Regions from separate parts of the Homo sapiens genome. Here region 1 is linked to region 2. Evidence: fine-mapped expression QTL. A gene starts in region 2. The other region holds a variant in brackets. All regions are shown on one strand. Distances are from middle to middle.

Region 1 (8,257 bases), 370 kb after region 2:
AGGTGGCGCTGAGTGTTGCTGCCCATGAACTTCTCTTCCGAGACAGCCAGAAAGCTCCTCAGTGCTAAAGCTGATCACCGTAGTCTCACACCTGCTTCCTCTCTGTGAGGAGGGGCCGTCTGCACATTCCCATGGACTCTTGCGGCTCTTCCCAGGGGCTCCCCTTCTAGAAAGTTCTCTCTGACCCGCAGGGCTCCTCCCCTTCCCTGCCCAGCCTGTGACTAGGGTCTCTGTGACGGCACCTGGAATACTGACATCATTTGCTGCTGGAGGCTGGTGGCAGCCCAGAGCCTGGCCCGGGAGACCCTGGGGTGTGTTTTCTGAGAGGATGACAGACAGGGTGTTTGGGTCCTGCTTCCCTCACCCTGACTTCTGGGGCAGGAGAGCACTGGGGGAGGTCCTGTTCGGCTCACATAATCTCCCAGACCCAGGAGCAGACAGCCCAAAGCTCCCTATGGCCTCCCGGCCCAGGGCAGTGCCAGCAGAGGCCTCCTGGTAGGGCCAGGGAAGCAGAGGGTGGCAGCCCCTTCAGCTTGGTTGTGAGTGAGATGCCTGCCCTCCTCCGGGTGCCACCCAGCCCCACCGGATCCACTCAAGTCAGACAGACTTGGGGGTGGGGTGGGGTGGGGGCAAGTCCTGTTTCTGCCAGGACGCAGGCTGTGTGACCTTGGGGGAGTTCCTTGACCCCGAGCAGCAGTACCTAGGGTGATGGAAGAAAGGCTCTTAGCAAAGGGCACAGCAGCAGGCTCAGTTTATTCACAAATTTTGTGCACACAACCCAATTCCCCAGGATGACCATTTGCTCTGTCACCTAGGGCAAGTTCTTTTTTGCCTTCCCTGAGCCTCAGTTTTCAGCCGAGGGTAAGATTGGATGCTCCTTGAAAGGTACTTCCTGCCTCAGACACACGCTTCTCATGGCCAGGGCGTGCCTTGCATTCAGGGTCTCTGCACAGGCTGGTCCCTCTGCAGGGACTCCCCCTTCCTGTCACCGCCTGTTTAAATCCTGTTGGCTCCTAGTGCCACGCGGGCGCCCTGAGCCAGCGCAGGCTCCGAATGGCATTCCCTCCGTCCACACCCTGGTAGAGATCGCTGTGCGCTGGCTCCGAGGCGCTCGCCAGGGAGATGCTAACACCGAGGATCCACGACAGCTGAGCCTGCAGCGCCACCCAGGGGCGCCCGGAGCATCTGCGCCAGTGTGGGGCGGGCCGTGCTCCCTACTGTCCCTGGTAACTTGCTTTGCGGACCCCTGGGAGGCCCCGCCTTCAGCAGCCACTCCTAGATTTCTCCAGACCACCTGGGACCCATCACTGGCAGGGGAATCTTTGCTCTTGTCCCACTGTCCCCCATGCTAGATCCCCTGGGAACAGGTCACCCTCAGTCCTGAGCTGAGCTCCCCCTTCTCCATCTGTAGGTCTCCTAGTCTCAGAACAAAGGCTTAGGGCACAGGGGCCAGGTTTGTAAAAGGAAAGAGGCTTTGGTGGAACCTCTGAACCTCTGAGAAACCGTGTTCCTTTTTTATTGTCTGTACAAGAGGCGTGGGCCCGGAGGAAAAACAGCTCCCGAGGGAAACCATAACCGCAGTGTTGGTTTGTTCCTTTGATCATCAACATTTGCTACGGGTCTCCCAGCCCAGGCAGATGTTGGAAATGATGATGCCCAAGAGCCAGCCCCTGCCTGGTGTGTTGGGAGTAGCTGGAGGGGAGCAGGGCGTCAACAAACTCTTTTGTGACGGGACAGGCCATGGGTTTCTCAAGGTTCCTCCCCCCACCACACTATGTCCTCAGGCAATGAGCCACCACAACTACTGGGAGCTTGGCCTATTCCAAGCTCTTGGCTGCTGTCACTCTTTCTCTTGGACACTTGCTCTTGAATGGGACGATTTAGAAGAAAGACCTGAACGCCTTTAAAATCCAAAGCAAAGTGTTTGTGATGGTGGAGGACGATGGGGACGTGATCCTGAAATCTCAGCACGCTGGGGGGCTGCTTGTTCCGTGTATGCACTGGCCACATGAAGCCAGTCTGCTGAGAAAAGGAAAACCAGTCCCGAGGGCAGTGGCGTTTCAGCCTGGGGCAAGCCATCCCCACGGCGCCCCATTTCCCTCTCAGATGTTGGAACAGGGACTCTTTGAGAGGCAGCTTCTTTGGCCAGAGGGGCACACCTCTCGGGGGAGGGTGCAGCCTGGCTCGCTGAGGAGTCCCGATGGGCCCAAGGCACTGTGTCACATAAGCAATGGCCAGCCACTCCTGATGGCAGCCCAAGCCCAGCCCCAGTGGCTGCCAGCTCTGCCCTGGTCCAGCTTGGTAAAGGCTTCCTCTCCCCTCCGAGTAGGCACGAGGGCTTCGGAGTGTCCAGCCAGACACCCCGAGGATCCGCCTGTGGTGCCACAGCACCCTCCCCCGCCCCACACACACACAGCTTAGACTTGGGGCGCTGCAGATGTCCCCGCTACCCACAAAGCTGATACCCTTTTATCTGCGTAGCTACACTGCCCTTATCTCCTCCTCAGAGACTAACTGCCCTCCACTGCCCCCACTCCTCCAGCCAGCCGCTGGGCCTCCTGGGAGCTGTCTGACATTTGACGTGATGGGGGCAGGGTCTGGGAACCAGCCCTTTCTGTGCAGGAGAGGTGGCCAGGAGCCTGCGGGTTAGGAGCAGGGTCCTGCTGCTGTGTGGCCTGCGCAGTCCTGTCCTCTCTCTGGGCTCAGCCTCTTCGCCCATGATGGTGGTGTTGGGGTTTGATTGCTCAGGGCCTTGAATATTGGGGCACCATGACTTTGGCAGGGGATAGGGATTAGAAACTCACAATTCTGGGTGTGTTGGCAAGGGGGTCAGCTGAGTACAGGGACAGGAGGGGGCGGTTAAGCAGAGAGCAGATATGAATGTCCTCAGCTTCTTGACCCAGGGAAGTATTCAAGGGCAAGGCGGGGCTGGGTGGGGCTGGGGAAGTCAGAGAAGCTCCAAGTGCCCGGTGAGGCTAGGCCAAGATTTATCTGGTGCCCTCATAGCCCCAGCGTCCATCTGGCCTCCAGTATCCCCAATTCCAAGCCCCCTGGTTGTTATGGGTGATGGACCCATGGATTTCCAACTGGTAGGGTTGGGAGGCCTGGGCTGGTCGCCATCCTGGAGGCGGGTCACAGGCACAGGGCAGAGGGTGGGAGCCGTGCCTGCCAGGGTCTTGTAACCTTGAAGGCCACTGCCAGCGGGTCCACCAGGAGGGCAAGGCCTAGGGTAAGCGGGTGTTGAGATAATGGCATCCTTGGGGCCCCTCTAGCCTGCC[C/T]CTGTGGACTATGGCCCACAGGGCCAGGGAGGGCAAAGGACTCCCCAGAGCCACTTGGTGAATCTGGGGTGAGTCGGCCACCTCGCTCAGGGCTTCTGTAATGCCAGGCCCTACTCAGGACACCCTGTGGCCACTGGGGAGCCATACGTACCCCAGCCAGTCTGCTGGCTGTCCCTACCTGGCTGGATTTCGGCCAGGCAAAGCGGGGGTCAGGGGAAGCAGGCGGGGGCTGAGGTCTACTCAGGAGCCCTCCCCAGCCCTGCTGGGAGCAGCTACAAAGCCAAGGGGAGGCCCCAAGGTGTTAACTAGCCAGTGCCTCTTGGCCCTTCCTTGGCACTTTCCCAGGATCAGCCCTGCCAGGAAAGCCAGCCCAGAGATGATGACGGAGCAGCATGGGGGTCCATGGGAGGCCGACTGTACAAGTGCCCCTGGCATGTTGCTTTAGACTCTTCCCAGCCTCTGGGGTCAGACAGACCTAGGATCCAATCTCTGTGCCTATGAACTGGTGACCCTGGGCTAGGATGATATCAGCCCCCCCCACAGCCTGTGGGTTCTGAATGAGCCATTGCATATATGGGCACGGGAGCCACAAAAAGAATCATCAGCCTCCAGAGCCTTCTTCAGCCCCCTTTTAATTTAATTTAATTTATTTATTTATTTATTTATTTGAGACGGAGTCTCACTCTGTCGCTAGGCTGGAGTGAGCGATCTTGGCTCACTGCAACCTCTGCCTCCCAGGTTCAAGCGATTCTCCCGTCTCAGCCTCCTGAGTAGCTGGGACTGCAGGCACGCACCACCATGCCCAGCTAATTTTTTTTTTTTTTTTTTTTTTGAGACGGAGTCTCGCTGTTGCCCAGGCTGGAGTACAGTGGTGTGATCTCAGCTCTCTGCAGGCTCTGCCCCGCCGGGGTTCACGCCATTCTCTTGCCTCAGCCTCCCACGTAGCTGGGACTACAGGCACCCGCCACCTCGCCCGGCTAATTTTTTGTATTTTTAGTAGAGACGGGGTTTCACCGTGTTAGCCAGGATGGTCTTGATCTCCTGACCTCGTGATCTGCCCGCCTCGGCCTCCCAAAGTGCTGGGATTACAGGCGTGAGCCACCGCACCCGGCCTAATTTTTGTATTTTTAGTAGAGACGGGGTTTCACCGTGTTAGCCAGGATGGTCTTGATCTCCTGACCTCGTGATCTGCCCGCCTCGGCCTCCCAAAGTGCTGGGATTACAGGCGTGAGCCACCGCACCCGGCCTAATTTTTGTATTTTTAGTAGAGACGGGGTTTCACCATGTTGGCCAGGATGGTCTCAATCTCTTGACTTTGTGATCTGCCCGCCTCAGCCTCCCAAAGTGCTGGGATTACAGGCATGAGCCACCGCTCCCGGCCTTCTCCAGCCCCTTCCAAGGAGGCCAGGAATTCTGTTTGGCCTGGCGCTCTGTGGAAGCTGGCTGGCCCAGGGATGGGAGGGCAGATTGCACTTGGGGAGACAGCTGGGGGGGGAGGATGTTAGGAAGAGTCTCTGCAAGCCCCTCCATGCCACCCTCCTTGGGTAGGGGTCAGCTGCTGAGAGGTGGCTCTCAGCCCTGTTTTAGAATTGGGCTGGGGTCGGCTGCTGAGAGGAGGAAGATGGGCCAATGTTTTTGGGTCATTTCCACCAAGTTCCGGGCCCCAGAATGAATTTCAGAGGCAGCAGGGAGAGGCGGGTGGGATGGCCACAGGGGAGGGAGGGGATACAGAGAGATGCAAGCATGGGGACCCCTCCTGGTGCCCAGGCCCAGCTAGAAGGGCCTCATCTATCACCCAATACCATGGCCTGGCATTGGCGTGCAGGAAACACAGGAAGTGAGAATAAAATTCCTTATTTTATTTCAAAAAATGTAGGGGTGGGGAAGTAACATGATAAACATTACGATCAGCTCCCTATGGGTTCATTCTGCCTCTGCGGGGGTCGGGGGCATACAGTAGCTGGGGGGCATGCCATTGCCATGGCAACCCAGATGCTTAGATGCAGGTCCCTCCTGGCTGCTTAGAGCTGGGGGGACTAGGCGCCCTCCCCGAAAGCCCCCATTCTGAGTTGTTGGTGCCTGCCCTTCCCCTGAATCTAAGAACTGATTAGTGGGTTAGACTGCAACAGCAGCTCAGGATCCTCCCAGGACTTCCCTCCCTCCCCTCTCACTTGCCCGTCCCCTCAGCTACCAGCACCTCCAGCCCCCACCTCCTCCTCTTCTCAGCTCCACCCTGGTCCTCATGAGGTACCCCCTCCCCAGCCCCTCAGGGCAGCCTCCTCCTGAGACTCCCTCCCGCTCTGCCTCCCTGGCCCTCCCTGACAGTCAGGGCCACCGAGGCAAGGCCATGTGGTGAAAGGCAGATTGTCACAAGGCCCAGCCCTGCCGCCCCCTCCTATCAGAATGCATCCTGGAGCAACAGGTTAAACACAGTAAGGGCAGGTTCAGACAGGAGAGTGCCTGAGGCAGCGCCGTCCACACAGCAGCCCCGAGATGGGGAGGGCTGGGACGAGACCTCCCAGCTCCAGTGCCCTCCTGCAGCCTGCAGGGCCCACGTCCCCTGGGGCCAAATGGCCAGGGATTGGCTGGCACTGCCCAGCTGATAACAGAGCCTTTGGAGAAGGGTCAGATTGCTCCAGAATCTTGGACCTCAGGACACCCTGAGGAAAAGCTGGAGGGTGGGCTGAGCCTCCAGGCCAGCCGGCCCCTCCCTGAACGTGGCCACTGCCTCTGCTGAGTCACAAGAGACGAGGGACTCCCCCTTTGGTCCCAAGGTCACAGGCTCAAGTTGGGGAGGCGGTGGAATGGGGCCCGTGAAAGCCCAGGGTCAGAGCACTCTAGTGATGGGGTGGAGGACTCTTCCAGGGCCCAAGGTTTGGGCTGGCTGTGCCCGCGGGCCTGGGGCCCTGGACATCTTAAGAGAGGCCTCGGGTACTTAACCGAGCTGCAGGAGGGAGACCCGAGCTTTGTAACAAAGCAGGCCTCTCTATGAAAGGGTGGACCAATGGCAGCCGTCAGGGAGAGTGAAGCCAGGCCGGGAGGGTCAGGGGCCCTGCCCGACTAGGACCTGCCCCTATGAACCCCAAGAGCATCTGAAGAACCAAAGCGGGGGTGATGCCTAGTGACCAGGCTGCAAGGGGAGACTCACAGGCCAGACCCATGGACCGCTGGTCTCCTCCCATCTTTAGGGGCAGAGAGTGGAGGTAGGACAGAGCCACCCCCGGTGGCCACCTCTCTGCTCCTTGGAAGAAGGGGCTAGGAGGCACTGGGAGGGCCATGGCTGATGGCTGACGGCTGAGGGAGGGCAGGTCCCATGAGGGCAGGGTGCTATGGGGGAGATGTGAAGAGAAAAAGGAGAGGAGAAAGGGAGAAAGATCCAACATGGGGTCCGTGAGCAGTGCATACACCAGCCTCTCGGACACCCCTCAGAACAAAAGCCCATCATTCCTCTGGCCATCACCCCACCTGCACCCCTTCCCCACGGTGTCCCGGGGGCTGTGGCTTCATTTGTGAAGGTAGGCGTCCAGCCACAGCTTCCCAGACTTCTTCAGGGACCTGCAAAGTTGGGGATGGACCAGGGTCAGGGACCAGGACGGGAGTGGCCCCAGGGAGTGCAAGGGCTGAGGAGGCCATCATTAAGGTGGCATGTATGTCCCCTTGGCCCTAACCAGGGCTTACCACTGCCACTGGGCCTGTGGGGCTGTCAGCTCAGAGCCCACCAGGAACCCCACACAGAAAGGGATGGTCTTCTCGCAGCCCAGGGAGAAAAGCCCAACAGCTCCTAACACAGGCTCGGGAGTAAGGCAGGTGCCCTGGTGGGTGACTGTGCCAGGAGGGCCCAGCCCCTCTTGTGATCCCACTGTCTGCACCACGGGTGATCCCAGGGCCCAGCGCCTGTGGACCTCCACCCCTCACCTGATGATGTCCAGCAGGGCCCTCAGTAGCGGCTTCTCCTGGTATTCAATGCCATGCTTGGCACATAGAGACTTCACCAGCGGGGCGATCTTGTGTAAGTTGTGCCGGGGCATGGTGGGGAAGAGGCTGAGGAGTGTGTAGGGTGGGCAGAGCGTGAGGACTCAGAGGGCCATGCTGCTCCCGCTTCCTCCCACCACCTGGGCAGAGGCTGGCTGGGGCCCTCAGAGACCCTGTCCACAGCCAGGACCAGTCTCAAAGTGTGGCTCCTCGTGTGTGCCCAGTGGGGTGCCACGTGTGTGGAGGGGAGGGTGCAGCCCTCCGTGAGCAGGAGGGCGTTTGTGCTCTATGGAGCTGGGAAGATATTGGGTGGCCAGAGACAAAGTGTCATGTTTTTCAAAAAAGAAATGAAATAGCTGGGGAATGCTAGGAAAAGAGGCAGTGAGGTGAGGCACGGTGGCTCACGCCTGTAATCCCAGCATTTTGGGAGGCCGAGGCAGGCAGATCACTTGAGGCCAGAAGTTTGAGATCAGCCTGGGCGACACGGCAAGACCTCTTCTCTACAAAAAATAAAAATAAAAAATTAGGCCAGGTGCAGTGGCTCACACCTGTAATCCCAGCACTTTGGGAGGCCAACGCAGGTGGATCACTTGAGGCTAGGAGTTTGAGACCAGCCTGGCCAACATGGTGAAACCCCGTCTCCACTAAAAAATACAAAAATTAGCTGGGCGTGGTGGCACACGCCTGTAATCCCAGCTACGTGGGAGGCTGAGGCCTGAGAATTGCTTGAACCTGGTAGGTGGAGGATGCAGTGAGCCGAGATTGCGCCACTGCCCTCCAGTCTGGGCAACAGAGTGAGATTCTGTCTCAAAATAAATAAATAAATAAAAGTAAAAAAAAAAAGAAAAAATTAGTTGGGCATGGTGGCACGCACCTGCAGTCCCAGCTACTCAGGAGGCTGAGGTGGGAGGATGACTTTAGCTCAGGCGTTCGAGGCTGCAGTGAGCCAAGAAAGCACCACTGCACTCCAGCCCAGGAAACAGGGTGAGACTCTGTCTCTACATTTT
Region 2 (8,394 bases):
ATTATATGACAAAAAAAGCACTTGGCAGACACGATCAAACATAATGAGATGGGGTGTTATTCTGAATAATCTGCAGGGTCCCAAAACCAAACCTGTGTATTTTGTGATTAAAAGTCAGGGTGGTGGCTCACGTCTGTAATCCCAGCACTTTGGGAGGCCGAGGTGGGTGGATCACGAGGTCAGGAGATCAAGACCATCCTGGCTAACACGGTGAAACCCCATCTCTACTAAAAATACAAAAAATTAGCCGAGCATGGTGGCGGGCGCCTGTAGTCCCAGCTACTCGGGAGGCTGAGGCAGGAGAACAGCGTGAACCCGGGAGGTGGAGCTTGCAGTGAGCCGAAATGGTGCCACTGCACTCCAGCCTGGGCGACAGAGCGAGACTCCTTCTCAAAAAAAAAAAAAAAAAAAAGCCAAGGTGGGTGGGGTTGATGTAGAAAGAAAAGAAGGGAACATATCATGGAGGCAGAGGTTGGAGTGATGTGGCCACAGGACCAGGACAATTATTAGCCCAGAAGCCAGAAGCAACCCTTAGTGAATTCCCCCCAAGAGTCCCCAGAGGGAGCGGAGCCCTGCTGCCCCCTAACGTCTTCACAGTGATACTAATGTTGGACTTCTGACCCCCAGAGATGCCTGAGAATCAGTCGTTTTAAGCCATGAAGTTTGCAGATTTTTGTTCCAGTAGTCACAGGACACCAAGCAGGGAAACTGTGGTGTCTCTCTGTGTCCTGGTCAGGGTGCTTGCTGGGTGGGTGCCTTAGCCTGGATGGGCTCATGGAAGGGAGAGCAGGCTGGGGGCAGACCCTGTGCTCAGTTTTACATCCTGCTCCTGAAATGACTGTGGAGTGCGCACTGGGAGCTGTCCAGTTGTCAGGGGGTGCTGGTCTCTGGAGCTCTTGGGAGAGCTTGAGGAAGGAAGCATTCACCTCAGGTGCTGGTGAGTGATGCAGACGCTGAGGAGTGCTCTGAGCGTGGGGAGTAAAACAATGTGAACTCCAGGTTGAAACCTAAAGAGGACCCCAAATTGTGATAAGTGGAAAATGAAGTATACTGGACATGACGGAGGACAGAAAGCATAGTGCAGAGAGAGCACCAAGCAGGCTGACTGTGGGTCTGAGGGGACATCAGAGTAAAGTCACTGATAGGTGGGAACCCTCGGCCTGGATACCCATTCAGGCTGGGGGTTCTCTCAGTGTAAGACCAGTGGAACATTTCAATTCCTGTGTCCTTGTTACCATGGTTTTTATTCACGGCTGCAAGATGGGAAATCTGTAAGGAATGCAGGATAATTCCTACCAAATATTCTCCTCTGTGACACCTGGACTCAGGCCCCATTAGTAACAGGATGCTGGTTCTCTGGAGTTAATTATCACCCACAGCAAAAGGCCACTCCACTATGGAAACCACCCTGTACTCAAGGCTCGAGACTGCAGGATTATAACAAGACCAGTGGAGACGTGGAGAGCAAGTGATTTATTAAAGCAAGACGTTGAAACCTTTACATTCTGCAGTGAAGATCAGGGTGTCATTGAAAGACAGTGGAAACCAGGATGAAAGTTTTTACATGTCACACACTACATTTCTTCAATATTTTCACCTAAAATAGGAAAAGAAAAAAGAAGGTGGGGTCAGTCATGCTGCTGCTGGAGGTGACAGGCTCACATCCAAGAGGCCAGTGGGATTCTGCCCCCAAAGGCAATTGGAAGGGCAGAGGCAACAACTCAGTTTGGGAAACTGAGGCCTAGACCTGGTGGCCTCACAGCACCCATGCCGGTGATGGAGCAGCCTTTTCTTGCCAGGCCAATAGCCCTGGGGTGATCCGGGAATGAGGCCCAGGATCCTCATGGAAGCAAGTGACGAGGGTTGGAGAGAGCAGCAAGAGGTTATTGCCTGGGCTGTCCCAGGGCTTGGAGTCTCCTGGTTCCTGCAGTGAGGGACCCAGGACTGAGAGGCTGGTCAGGGCTGAGAGGGCTTCTGGGAAGCTTGGCTTCCAGGAGACTCCAGCCTCCCCATGTGGGAATTCTGCCTCAGGGCCCGAGCACCTCTCAGTCCCGAGCCTGCAGCTTCCATGAGCATTTGCAGCTAAACCTCAGGACAGCAACTCAGAGGCAGCCAGGCAGAGAGGCCCCTGGAAAACCTCTGATTTCTTGAGAAAGACAGAGTGAGAACATCCCGCTTCCATGGCACTGCAGGAGGTAGACTAGCTAGGGTCTTGGACGACTGGCCATGGTCAGGAGAGTGTCGTGGGTGTGGAGGGGAGTATGGGGTCTCAGGAGCTGGGAGGGGCTCCTTCCTGGCTCTGCAGAAGCTGCAGAGAAGTCCAGCCTGCCAGTGCTACATCTGCAGGAGCCCCTGCTCTATGTCCCTCCCTGCCTTCCTCTCCCTGTTCAAGGCTCCCATGCTCCCCAGGACATTCCACAGTGACTGTGTCCATTACATGAGGGCAGTTTGGTCTCAGGAAAGCTCCCAGCAGCGAGGCGGCCATGCTTGGCCCTTTACCATTTCTGCCTGGGCCCAGGCTCACTCCCCATGTCCTCAGCACACTCTGGGGACATGGCATCCAGGCAGGTGACATGAGAAGGAGGAACATGCAGGAGGCTGTGTGCAGCTGAGTTGAATTCTGCAGGTGAAATGGTGGCACCCACCCTGTGGCCCCAGGTGACCTTCTCAAGAGGTGACCAGCAAGGCAGCTGCCCCACCACCTGTGTCCCCAACAGAGCAGCAAGCTGACCTCACTTCATACTGTGCAGCTGACCAGAAGCCTTAACAAATAAAGGAGAAAGAAGTTACCAGGACTTCCGCAATGAGGCTTCGTTTCTGAAGGGACATCTGATCCGTGCATCTCTTCACTCCTAACTTGGCTGCAACAGCTTCCGGAGGGGCATCAAATTTGGCAAGACTTAACTTGAACAGAGGTTCACTAATGAAGAAGAAGTCTAACAGCTCAGAAACAAGAGCTGGGCAGAACTCGGCATTGGCTGCAGCAAAAGAATAAAAATATAGTTGATGTTAGGAAAGTCGATTTTTCTCTTTGGCTCCCTGACGTTAGACCAGACAGGATCCCCTGGGTTATATGTTCACATACATTTGTTGTGCTGATGACAATGCCAGACCCTTCAGGTGTGACTTCCTCAAGCTCTCACAATAAAGGAAAGCACTTCATATCAACAGCCAAACTCTTTTTTTTCCCTTTGTCACCCAGGCTGGAATTCAGTAGCTCAATCATGGCTCACTGCAGCCTCTACCTCCTGGGCTCAAGCGATATCCCCATCTCAGCCCCCTAAGTAGCTGAGACTACTGGTGCATGTCACCACGTCCAGCTGATTTTTCATATTTCTTTTGGTAAAGCTGGAGTTTCGCCACGTTGCCTAGGCCGGACTCAAACTCCTGAGCTCAAGCAATTCACTCTCCTTGACCTTCCAAAGTGCTAGGATTACAGGCATGAGCCGCCATGCTTAGCCCACAGCTAGACTCTTTTGACAGTATTAATCTTTCTTACTCCATTCTCATAGCCTCTCCTGGCAGAAGCGCTAACTACCAGTGATAGGAGGAGGCTCAGGGAGGGTGAGCATTGTGCCCAAGGTCAAAGGGCTGGGAAGTGGCGGATCCCAGATTCACCCCAGACCTCACATTACATCATCTGACACAGATCCCACCCAGGAGTGAAGCTCAGGCAGAAGAATTCCTAATATTTGCCTGCACTGATTTTCAATAAAACTTCGTAGGTGCTGGGGAGTAGAAGAAATAGCTCTGAACTTGATGAGGGGCTTGTTCAACAAGCACAGAAAAAGGTTTGGAATTTTGGTTTTGTGCAGATCCTAACCCCAGCCTGAATAGGTGACCTCGTGCTTGGAAGAGGGTGCTTCCCAGGGGCTGGAGCTAGACTCATGACTGATGTACTCACCCTGGTAGCAGCAGAGGGCCAGCGTGACCAGCAGGAGACACACCGACAGCTTCATGGTGGCTTGTTTTGCTGTGAGCTCAGCTTTCACAAACAATGAGTGATTTGGACTCCACCCCAGGAGCCTGTGGAGCTGCAGAGCCCAGGGCTATTTGTACCTAGGGAGTCTAGCTGGTACTGGTCATGAGGCCTGGCTCCCAGCCCACCTCTCCTTCCCAGGGCTGTTGCCATCCATCTGTGTCACCTCCCCACGCCTCCCTGCACTCTGACTGGGGCAGAGCACAGGAGGGTAGCCCTGCAGGAACTCTGCTCTGTGTTCCAGGTGAATGTTCAGGCACCTCTGGAAATATTCCTGGGATTCTGTTTCCTTCTGAGTTTTGCTGATTATTTTTTTTCTTTGTATCAGTTCAAGGGCACAGGTAAATTCTGACTTTGGAAGGCACAGGAAGCTGGAAGGCTGTGTTCTGGTTATGGGGGAGCAGGGACATAAGGAAACCCTGCTTTGATCCCCCTGCATGTCTGACAACCAGTAGGCTTGTTTCAGTTGCACATTGAGCAAGTCTAAACAAGACCTATTCCCCTCAGCCCCTCCCATCACCACCATGTTCACTGCATAGGTACCTAAAACCTAGTTCAATGCATCTTACCTTTGGAGGATTTCCTGGGGAAAAGCAACTGCTGCACCTGTTCTCTAGCCTGTCTCACTCCCAAACCTGAGTCTTGTTTATGAGTGCAGCTATAAATATGGCCAAGACTCACATTTTCTCTCTACGAGGAGCAAGCTTTCTGTGATGTGTAGCCACCCACATGTTGATGGGTTGACCTGATGATTACATAGCCTAACTTTTTCCAAGTAGCTTTTGGAGTGTCCAGAGCCAATCATGCATCGGACAGGTACTGAGAGTTCTTTGCTCTGGGGCTCCAGGAGGGGAAGAAGATGGAAAAGAAGAGACAGATGATCAGGGTGAGTGGTCACTTCCCCCCAACCTCTAGGCTCAAGTTTTCCACTTCAAATCTAGCTGTGCAGCCTGAGCCAATCCCATTTTTAATAGAAAGGGAAGGAAGCACCCAGACAAAGCAATACACACCCTCCTGCCCTCCTGCTGTGATGCCTTTGTGTGGTGTGAGCAGGAAATCAATCACTAGAAATTTCTCTCTCTTTTTTGTTATTATACTTTAAGTTTTAGGGTACGTGTGCACAACGTGCAGGTTAGCTACATATGTATACATGTGCCATGTTGGTGTGCTGCACCAATTAACTCATCATTTAACATTAGGTATATCTCCTAATGCTATCCCTCCCCCCTCCCCCCACCCCACAACAGTCCCTGGTGTGTGCTGTTCCCCTTCCTGTGTCCATGTGTTCTCATTGTTCAATTCCCACCTATGAGTGAGAACACGCGGTGTTTGTTTTTTTGTCCTTGCGATAGTTTGCTGAGAATGATGGTTTCCAGCTTCATCCATGTCCCTACAAAGGACATGAACTCATCATTTTTTATGGCTGCATAGTATTCCGTGGTGTATATGTGCCACATTTTTTTAATCCAGTCTATCATTGTTGGACATTTGGGTTGGTTCCAAGACTTTGCTATTGTGAATAGTGCTGCAATAAACATACGTGTGCATGCGTCTTTATAGCAGCATGATTTATAATCCTTTGGGTATATACCCAGTAATGGGATCGCTGGGTCAAATGGTATTTCTAGTTCAAGGTCCCTGAGGAATCGCCACACTGACTTCCACAATGGTTGAACTAGTTTACATAATCATGTGATTTTTTCATTGGTTCTGTTTATATGCTGGATTACATTTATTGATTTACGTATGTTGAACCAACCTTGCATCCCAGGGATGAAGCCCAATTGATCATGGTGGATAAGTTTAATGCCCACAAGAGAAAGCAGGAAAAATCTAAAATTGACACCCTAACATCACAATTAAAAGAACTAGAGAAGCAAGAGCAAACATATTCAAAAGCTAGCAGAAGGCATTGAATAACTAAGATCAGAGCAGAACTGAAGGAGATAGAGACACAAAAAACCCTTCAAAAAATCAACGAATCCAGGAGCTGGTTTTTTGAAAAGAGCAACAAAATTGATAGACCACTAGCAAGACTAATAAAGAAAAAAAGAGAGAAGAATCAAATAGATACAATAAAAAATGATAAAGGGGATATCACCACCGATCCCATAGAAATACAAACTACCGTCAGAGAATACTATAAACACCTCTATGCAAATAAACTAGAAAATCTAGAAGAAATGGATAAATTCCTCGACACATACACCCTCCCAAGACTAAACCAGGAAGAAGTTGAATCTCTGAATAGACCAATAACAGGCTCTGAAATTGAGGCAATAATTAATAGCCTACCAACCAAAAAAAGTCCAGGACCAGATGGATTCACAGCCGAATTCTACCAGAGGTCCAAGGAGGAGCTGGTACCATTCCTTCTGAAACTATTCTAATCAATAGAAAAAGAGGGAATCCTCCCTAACTCAATTTATGAGGCCAGCACCATCCTGATACCAAAGACTGGCAGAGACACAACAAAAAAAGAGAATTATAGACCAATATCCCTGATGAACATCGATGCAAAAATCCCCAATAAAATACTGGCAAACCGAATCCAGCAACACATCAAGAAATTTCTCTCTTAAATGAACTTACTTTTGAGAGGATTCACAGCCTAGGCCCGAGCTTTCCATTCGCAGCTGCGCAATCGAATCACTTGGAGCTTTTAAAATATACTGACTCCCCAGGTTTCTCTCTCTGGGGATTTTGATTCAGTAGCGTTGGGTTGACTCCCTGATTCCTACACTGTTTAAACTGCTCTGGTGTTTCTGATGGGCAGGAGGGCTGAAAACCACACAGAAAGACATGTATGTAAAGAGGGGACCTTATGGGCTGTGTCATCAGAGACAACTTGGCAGGTTTGTTTGAGCCCCAGCTGAGGGCAACAGTGGCTGTCACTTCCATCACACAGGATCATGAGGAAATCCCTGAGCCAGCTCTTCCGCCACCACCAAGGAGTGGGAGGGCCAGTGGTGAGGCTCACAGATACAAGGCTCACAGATACAGCCTCATTTGTGGGCTCTTGGACCTTAAGAAAATTATTCAGCTTATGTAACCTCAGTTTTCCTATTTGTCAAAGTAGGCTAGTAATTGTGCCTACATCATTGGGTTCATAGATGATCAAATGAGTGTGTTCATGGGGGTGTGTGTGTTTAAAGTTAACTAAGTTCTGGTACATAGTAGTTCTCAATAAATTCTAACTCCCATTATCTTGTCCCACTTGTCATATATGTCATGGTTTGCCAGTAGTTCCTAGTTTAGAGCACAGCCAAAATCCACTAAATCACCTACTTTCAGAACTACATGGACACCTAGATACACCATTTCTCTCTGACATAAATGGAAAAAGAAATCCAGTTCATGATCTCTGAGTCTACAGACCCATGGACTTGGGCTTCAGGACTGAGACGTCTTTCACAGCAGACAGGTCTGTGAGGCATTCATCCTAACTGTGGACCAGAGCTTGTCCTGGCACAGGCTTGGCATTCACCTTGTCAGCTCTATGGTCCACCGGGGAGGATGTGTATCTCTGAGAGAGGACTGTTTGCTTGTACTTTTATCATTCCTATTGCCCTTAACACCTGCACAGGGTTTTTTAGTTTTCATCATTGATATTTTTAATGGGTCCCTCCTCCTTACCGAGTTCATGCAATATTTCAGTTCATTCTTTCCACCCACGGGCATTGTTGCCTGACCCCGATGCTTTGGTCAGTGTTGCCCTTTACAGACACTGCTGGAACCATGCACCTCTCATTTGCAGCAATTCCAAGGCTGTTATTTTACAAATGTGTAATCAGTTCATGGATACAAGTTTTCCTGGACTGTTAGCTCCATAATCACAGGGCCAGTATCTGCTTTTGCTCATCTTGGCTCAGCACAGCGGCTGGCATGGAGAAGAAGATCAGCAAACAATCTTTTAACAAATACATCATAAAATTATGAATCAACAAACTGCTAAATGGGTGACATTCATGTTCAGTGTAAAAGAATGCTCATGGTGCCAGGCTTCCCTGTGGGCAGTTGAGGGTGAAAGATGAGTAGTGTGGTGGTGACTGTGAAAGAAACTCATCGGTTTTCCACATCCCTAGAGAGAACAGTGAAACGAGGATTTTGCCGCATCAACCACTCCAACTCCTAATCTTCTAGTGGAAGCCAAGACTTCTAAAACAATTTCAGGGAAATTTAATATCAACTCACCAAGCTCTATATTGACTAATAGGAGCTCCTGTTTAGTTTCTCTTCTAATTAGGAGGTTCAGAGCTTCTGAGTTCCCAGGGTCCCAGCAGCAAAGCAGCCCATGGGGACAACTCCTCTGCCCTTCCCCAGCCATGAGCAGAGTGCTCCAGGGAAACAGGGGGAGGCATGGAACGTTCTGGGTGAAGGCACTGAGACGTGTTGCTGGGAATATAAAGGAGCAT

Which allele goes with the higher level. Positions count from the first base shown, and alleles are read on the strand shown. Sizes are in standard deviations (SD) of each study's normalised expression.
For the expression in nucleus accumbens of the gene that starts at base 4,028 in region 2, T is the low allele of the variant in region 1 and C is the other (moderate effect, 0.57 SD a copy in GTEx).

What was found. PIP is the estimated chance that this variant, and not a neighbour inherited with it, causes the effect.
Region 1: its variant is fine-mapped to the expression of SCGB1D2 in nucleus accumbens (GTEx, PIP 0.98).

Annotation. Positions count from the first base shown.
Region 1 is chr11:61,864,214-61,872,470 of GRCh38, reverse strand. It overlaps FADS2 (fatty acid desaturase 2), which reads right to left. Exons shown (of 12, transcript NM_004265.4): 11 at 7,194-7,319; 12 at 5,117-6,833. The coding sequence ends at 6,782. Among named protein-coding and RNA genes, the nearest start is that of MIR6746, 9.9 kb to the left of the region's middle. The variant C/T (reference allele first, on the strand shown) is at 3,279.
Region 2 is chr11:62,237,873-62,246,266 of GRCh38, reverse strand. It overlaps SCGB1D2 (secretoglobin family 1D member 2), which reads right to left and starts at 4,028. Exons shown (of 3, transcript NM_006551.4): 1 at 3,905-4,028; 2 at 2,791-2,978; 3 at 1,455-1,597. The coding sequence starts at 3,959. The coding sequence ends at 1,568.